Homo sapiens: one gene and its partner. The protein of the gene in region 2 purifies or fractionates together with the protein of the main gene of each other region. This does not show direct contact. Each region holds a gene or a part of one and is shown on either strand. Other genes may lie near its edges.

What was found.
Region 1: the proteins of SIRPG (region 2) and SPCS2 purify together in Homo sapiens (affinity purification with mass spectrometry, with the first as the bait; one large-scale study listed by BioGRID). This does not show direct contact.

What each region holds. Positions count from the first base shown.
Region 1 is NC_000011.10:74,955,766-74,959,265, reverse strand, and holds part of SPCS2 (signal peptidase complex subunit 2), read right to left. Parts: intron 1-3,500. UniProt on the Homo sapiens protein: Component of the signal peptidase complex (SPC) which catalyzes the cleavage of N-terminal signal sequences from nascent proteins as they are translocated into the lumen of the endoplasmic reticulum.
Region 2 is NC_000020.11:1,651,280-1,654,779, reverse strand, and holds part of SIRPG (signal-regulatory protein gamma isoform 1 precursor), read left to right. Parts: intron 1-3,500. UniProt on the Homo sapiens protein: Probable immunoglobulin-like cell surface receptor. On binding with CD47, mediates cell-cell adhesion. Engagement on T-cells by CD47 on antigen-presenting cells results in enhanced antigen-specific T-cell proliferation and costimulates T-cell activation.

The sequences.
Region 1 (3,500 bases), on a different chromosome or scaffold from region 2:
GGATTGCTTCATAAAGTTCCCTGGCTTGATAATAAGACTCAAAGGATTCCTCAATTCACACTGGAGAGATGAAGAATTACCAAGGGTGAGAGTGGTGTCAATGGTGACCCTGTTCTGATTTAGACAGAACTGAGCATGGCTTTAAGAAAAATAAACTTTTTCTCTCCTTTATCCCAGTTTAGAAAGTAGACAGAAGCTGCAAAGGGGGAAAGTAGTAGGAGATGAGGCATCCGAGAGAAACCATTTCCTAGTTATTAGGCTAAAGAACTTGAACTTTATTCTGAAGCAGGCAATGGAGAGTATTTTAAGCATGGGAATAACAATCAAATTTACGTTTTTTTTTTAAGTCATTTTAGTGGCAACCTGGCAGATGATCTGGAGGGGAGTAACACTGGACATAGAGATGCAGATGGGGCCTGATGTAAGTGCAGAGCCTCAATGCTCAACAGAGCAGCAGTAGGGGGACTGAAAGGGAGTATTCTGAGGTAGAATTGGCAGGACTTAGTAACAGACTAGTTATAAGGAACATGAAAGAGAAGAGACAGAGATGACCACCTACTAGAATTAGGGCTTGGATGACTTGTTGGAGCCATCATGTCATTTTCCAAGAAGAAGAATACAGGAGGAAAAAGGATAAATACCCATTTGTATATGTGGAGTTCTAAACTAAAATAAGGAGATAATAAAAACTGATGGCAAACTCAGAAGCTGAGATTACAATTTCAGTTGGAAATATATAGTGCCTATATCCCCCCCACACACACATATTTAGCAAGAAAGGAAAATGTTCAGTTTGGGAAGAAAATGATGTCTATCTTAAGAATGTGCACTGTCATCTAATTTAGATCCCAATTCAGCAAAAACATGGTATCTCAAAGAGATTATGCTCTTAGCAACACACTGAATCTTCAATTTCAATCTATTTTTTATAAAAATGGCCAAGATACACTGCAAAGAAAATTACTAGCTTAACAGTGCTTATTACTGACTGCATTCATCACTGGAGTTAGAAGTTAGGAAATTACCATGTGTTAATTAAATTATGAGCACACACATTAGTGACAACCCCAGAGAAACTGATTCTTAGGTTTTACACTGCCTTCTCTACTCCACCACAAACTGCATTTAGCAGTGACGGGGCTGCTTCTACATCAACCCAGCCCATGAATAGAGAAGCCTACATGACTGAAGCTCTTTGAGGGCCAGATCACTGGATCCATGACTTAAACATCCCACCACTGAACCCAGTAAGTGTGAGATCTAAGGCTGAAAAGAGCTTAAAGTTAAAACAACTTGATTCAGCATATTAATCAGTAATGCTCCAACAACGAAGTATTTTTTTCTACCAGCAAACTGAAATGTAGTCAACAATCCTTTCACTACTAGCAACTAACATCTTCTAAAGTCTGACTGAATTGTTGGCATAATCATCCAGTATGAATTTCTTACCTTTGCAATGGGTAGACAAGAAATCAGATATACAAAAAAAATGGTCTTTACAATTTAGTTAAGGAAAATCCTATACTTACAATGAATTATAAACTATGCTAAGTGCTAAATGGTAAGAAGTAGACATAGAGGGGCAAGGGCACACTACAAGTTCAAGGATCTGCAAAAAAGATTTTGGATAAAATGTTACCTATTTCCTCAGGGATATCAATCTGCAGCAAAGCTGACTGGGGAGGGTTGGAAGAGAGAGGGATGCTGCCAAGGAAGACCTGAATTAAGGCACGAAGACTGGCTAGGAATGTACTACATTGATACAGATGTGCGATGAGTCCTTATTCTAGAAAGGTGGCAGATCACGTGCTCCATTTAAGAATTACATGCAATCAGTTCTGAAAAATGCAGCTGAGTGCAAATTCAGGGAGAGGACCATACAGCCGTTTCATCTGAAATCCATCTCCTACTGCCTGGAAAAATATTAACTGTTATATGACTTTTCTGGGTTTCTTTTTCTTTTTAAGGAAACTGCCAAGCCTCTCAATAGCAATTCATTCCAGTGTTGGACATTCTTTTAAAAGAAAAAAATAATATTTTTAAACACAACCTTTATGGCAATTACACTCTTTATTTTCTTTAAATTAATATTGAATGGCTGCTTGCTATGTGCCAAGCACTGTTCTAGCCACTAGGGATATAGTCATAAACAAGACAAATTCTGCACTCAAAGAGCTTCTTCTTGTATGGAAGATAAAAAGTAAACAAATACGCATATAATTCCAGGCTCTAAAAAAGATTATACAGAAAAATGCAATAGAGTTTTTAAAAAGACTAAAAAATAGTGAGGGAAAATAGTTAACATCTGAGCAGAGTTGAATAAAGGAGTAACCCATGAGAAAATCTGGAGTGTCCCAGTGAAAACAGTACACCAAAATCCCCCAAGCTTAACGTGTTTGAGGAACAGCAGAAAAGCCAGGGTTTCCAGAGTATAATGACTCAAGCAGAAACTGACAGATGAGGATGACAGAAACAAGCAGGATCAAGAACATGCAGGGGCTATAAAATAGGCCACAATTAGGGATTTGGAGTTTAGCTAACTGAGATGGGAAGTTACTGGAGAGATTCAGCAAGAGAGTGAGTGATCTATGTTTTAAAACATCAGTCTGGCTGCTGTGTGGAGAACAAAATGTAACGGAGCCAAGCACGGAAGCTGGAAGACCAGTTGAAAGGGCTACTACAGCTCTCTAGGTAGGAGTGGTCAGATTCTGGATGTACAGCCAGGAAAATACGACAATGAGATGGCTGTGGAGTACAAAGCAAAGAGAAGAATCAAGGGTAACTCTCAGGTTTTTGTTTGAATAAATTAGATGAATGGAGGTATCTACCTGAAATGAAGAAGACTGGGAGAGAAGCACTTTGAGGGGTAAGCGGAAATCAAGAGATTGGCTCTGGCTATTGATGCCTGATACATGTTTTAGACATTTAAGTGGAGATGACAAGTAGGCGGTTGGACAGAAAAGTCTGGGACTTATAGGAAAGGTCCAGGTTGAGAATATAAATGTAGAAGTCAGCAACTTCTACATGTTATTTAAGTCATGACATTGGGTATCACCTTGGGATGAGGGTAGACAGAGGAGAGGGCCAGGGGTAATAAGCTCATAAGCTCAGGGACTGGCAATATTTACACAGGTCAGGAAGAAGACCAAAGAACAATGAAGACAACAAAGACTAGTTGACGTAGGAGGAAAGCTGGGGGCAAGTGGTGTCCTAGAAGCCAAGTAAAGAAAGTATTTCAAGAAAAAAGAAGTGATCAATAAGTCAAATGCTACTGAAAGGCTAAGTAATATAAAAAACTACTATTGAAATTTGATAAGATGGAGATCAGAGCAGAGAAATGGTGCTAGCAACAGCTGAAAAAGGTACCTAGGCAGGCAGATATATATATATATATATATATATATATATATATATTTTAATTAGTAATTAAAGTAATAGTATTAAAGTAATCAGTGTCTGTGATACCACTGTGTTACATGACATATAGTTTAAAGAAATAA
Region 2 (3,500 bases):
GGTTTGCAAATGTTTTCTTCCATTCTATAGGTTGTCTCTTCACTCTGTTGATTGTTTCCTTGGCTGGGTAGAAGCTTTTTTAGTTTGTTGTTAATGCCTTTTGTCTATTTTTGCTTTTGTTGCCTGTGCTTTGGGGCTCAAATCCAAAAATGTATTGCCAAGACCAATGTCATGAAACTTTTCTTCTAGTTCTTGTACAGTTTCAGATCTTACATTTAAATCTTTAATCCATTTTGAGTTGATTTTTGTATGAGGCATGAGAAGAAGGCCTAATTTCATTCCCCTACACATGGATATCCAACTTTCCCAGCACCACTTTTTGAAGAGACAGACCTTTCACCATTGTGTTTTCTTCACACTTTTGTCAATAGTCAATTGAGTGTGAATGTGTGAGTTTATTGCTGGGCTCTCTGCTCTGATCCATTGGTCTATATATCTCTTTTTATGCCAGTGCCATGCCATTTTGATTACTTTGACACTGTAGTCAATGTTGAAATTAGGCAGTGTGGTGCTTCCATCTTTGTTCTTTTTTTTTTTTTTTTTAGATGCAGTCTTGCTCTGTCGCCAGTCTGGAGTGCAGTGGTGTGATCTCAGCTCACTGCAATCTCCACCTCCCGGGTTCAAGTGATTCCCCTGCCTCAGCCTCCCAAGTAGCTGGGACTACAGGTGTGCACCACCATGCCTGGCTAATTTTTTGTATTTTCAGTAGAGACAAGGTTTTACCATGTTGGCCAAGACGGTCTCGATTGCCTAACCTCGTGATCTGCTCGCTTCGGCCTCCCAAAGTGCTGGGATTACAGGCATGAGCCACCATGCCCGGCCCCATCTTTGTTCTTTTTGCTCAAGATTGCCTTGATGTAGCATATCACATTTGGAGATTTATGAATGTTATACCATCCTTGCATTCCTGAGATAAATCTCATGTGACCATGCTGAAACACACACAGAATTTTAAAGACTTTCTTTACTGTAAACTTCAACTCATTTTTTCAGTCTATATGAAATGCACATTGAAGAGATGTGTGGTTTTCCCTATTGCCCAGCCACTCTCCCTCCTTCCTACTTCTCTAATCTTACCACTGAAAGTCCTCCAATCTGTTAATAGAAGCAACAGATAAGCAAACTTCTCTCTTGGTAAAATGCATTTTCCCTCAAAGCAGAATTTCTGTGCATTTTTATCCTGAAATTCCCTCTTCCATGAAGGTAGAAATGAGGAAAAAAATGTGGGGATACAGGTGACACAGGTCTGCCTATATTACCTATAACTATAGTTATATTTATATCCATATCCATACCCTTATCCTTATCCTTGTCATCTAATGTCCACTGAAGCCTCCAAGCCTCAGAAATCTACTGAGCAATAACTTTACAATTTTTGAACGTTCACCATGTGGCAGACACTGTTGAAAATGCCTTACCTCTTTTACTTCATGTGATCATTATATACAAGGTAGATATTCTTGTCACCTTTCCTAACAGATAAGAAAACAGAAGCACAAAGTGCTCCAGGCTCACTCATTGGTAACTGGTAGAGCTACGATTTGAACTCAGGCACTCTGACTCTAGAGGTCACAGGTTTCACCATTACTCAAACACTTCCGGTCTTGATTCTATTCCATGAGATTTCTGCAGCTGCTGCTCTTGGGTGTGGAGTGGGCAATGTGGTGTGAAGGGAGATTGTGGTTTTCTTCTCTGGGCTCTTCTACTTTCTGTATGTTTGCAAACTGATTTTTTTTCACTAAGTCCTCTACATGGGAAACTCATTTTCTGTCAAATTCCACAGGAGCAAACCACCTAAAATAGAAGATTTCAGTCTTCGAGGGAAATGTCCCACTGAGCAATTCAAACATTACACACATATCTATTGGATACCTACTATGTGCCAGGATCTGACATAAAAACATGGGGTACTTTGGTAGAATAAAAGAGAAAAAGTAATTGCCCTTTTGTTGCTTACATCCACTGCAGAGAAAGACAGTAATCAATACACATGATAAATAGGTGAATGAAAAAATTAATTTTTGACAATGATAAGTGCAATAAAAATAAAGTATGAGTAGGTGAATGTTATCATCTTGTGAAAGTATTCATATATCCTTTTTATTGTTTTCATCGTAAATAGATGTACAAATTTACCAGATGCTTTTCTGCATCAAAATAGATGATCATGTGTTTTTTCTATTTATTCTATAAATAAATATTTGTAGAATACCATATTGTTTGTCTGTCATTTGTATATTGAAACATACTCATATTCCAGGAATAAATACCACTTGTTCATGGTTTATAATCCTTCTTACATGCTGTTCAATTCAGTTAGCTAGTATTTGGTTGAGGATTGTTGCATCAACAAATCCAGTAGTAATAAGGCCACTGTCAACAGAAAGGTGTGCAGCTGCACCTGACAAATTTTAATTTTGTGTTTCAGTAGAAGTTTAAGTTCCAGTGGGACCCATTTCAGATGAGCAGGGACTGGCCTGTGAGACAACCAGTGGTTAATGCTTGCAACAGGAAATATTCCCCCTAGATCTGGACCACAAGCCAGTAGATTCTAGTAGATAACCAGTCATTTTTTGTTAGAATGAAGTAAAGAACAAGGCAGAGAGGGGCTTTTTTGTTTTGTTTTATTTTTTGTTTTGCGTTAGAAGCCCTGGGGAAGTTTATGACCATCAGGAGTGGTCTAGAAATTCCAAGAGGAATGAAAATCATTGCCAAAGTCTCTAGAGAGAAGAGGTATTTTTGTTTGTTTGAAAGCACTAAAAGGAGTGCCTGTTGATTTTAATTTGCAAGTAAAATTTGTAAATGTAGAATACATTGCCACTGGCACCTCAAAACAACTCAGAGATGCTGGATTATGTGATATTATTATAAGTATCACATGAGTCTTCTTTGAAGAGGTTGCTATAACATCCTGTGCTCTTGAAGAAAGGCAGCTGTCATTATTGATATTGGAATAGGATACACATTTTAGGATAGAGAGTCTTGGCAGCACTCCAAAAGGCAACACATAGCTGTGCATAGCACAACACAAGAAAGGCATCAGGGCAAAAAAAAAACCTTCTCAAATTGTGGAGCCAATCAGTAGCAAATCCGTAAGCCATGAACAGTCAAAGTGCATCTCCTAGGAATTTGCTACCCCGGTTTAGAATAATCCCCTCCTCATTGCCATTAGTGTTGAAAATGGTAGAGTAAGTCCTGCAGGTTGTGTCTTAAAGGATCACTCTAACCTGGTCATGAGAATTTCATCTGGAGAGGCATAGCTGGGTAGGGCATGCCACACAGGAAGCCATATGGGAGGAGCTCCCAGGGAGTAGGCTCAACCAAGCAGATGGGGAAGCAAGAGAGATGAGAGATGAGAAGCCATTGCCTTTAATGGGAGTCAGGGTGGAGGACACCAAGAAAAAGCATGATGGGTTTTACTAGAACGTTTCAGTGTCACTAAGTCACAGAAGAGGAGGACAAGAAGAGGAATTATGGCAGGGACCAGCTTTATCACAGTG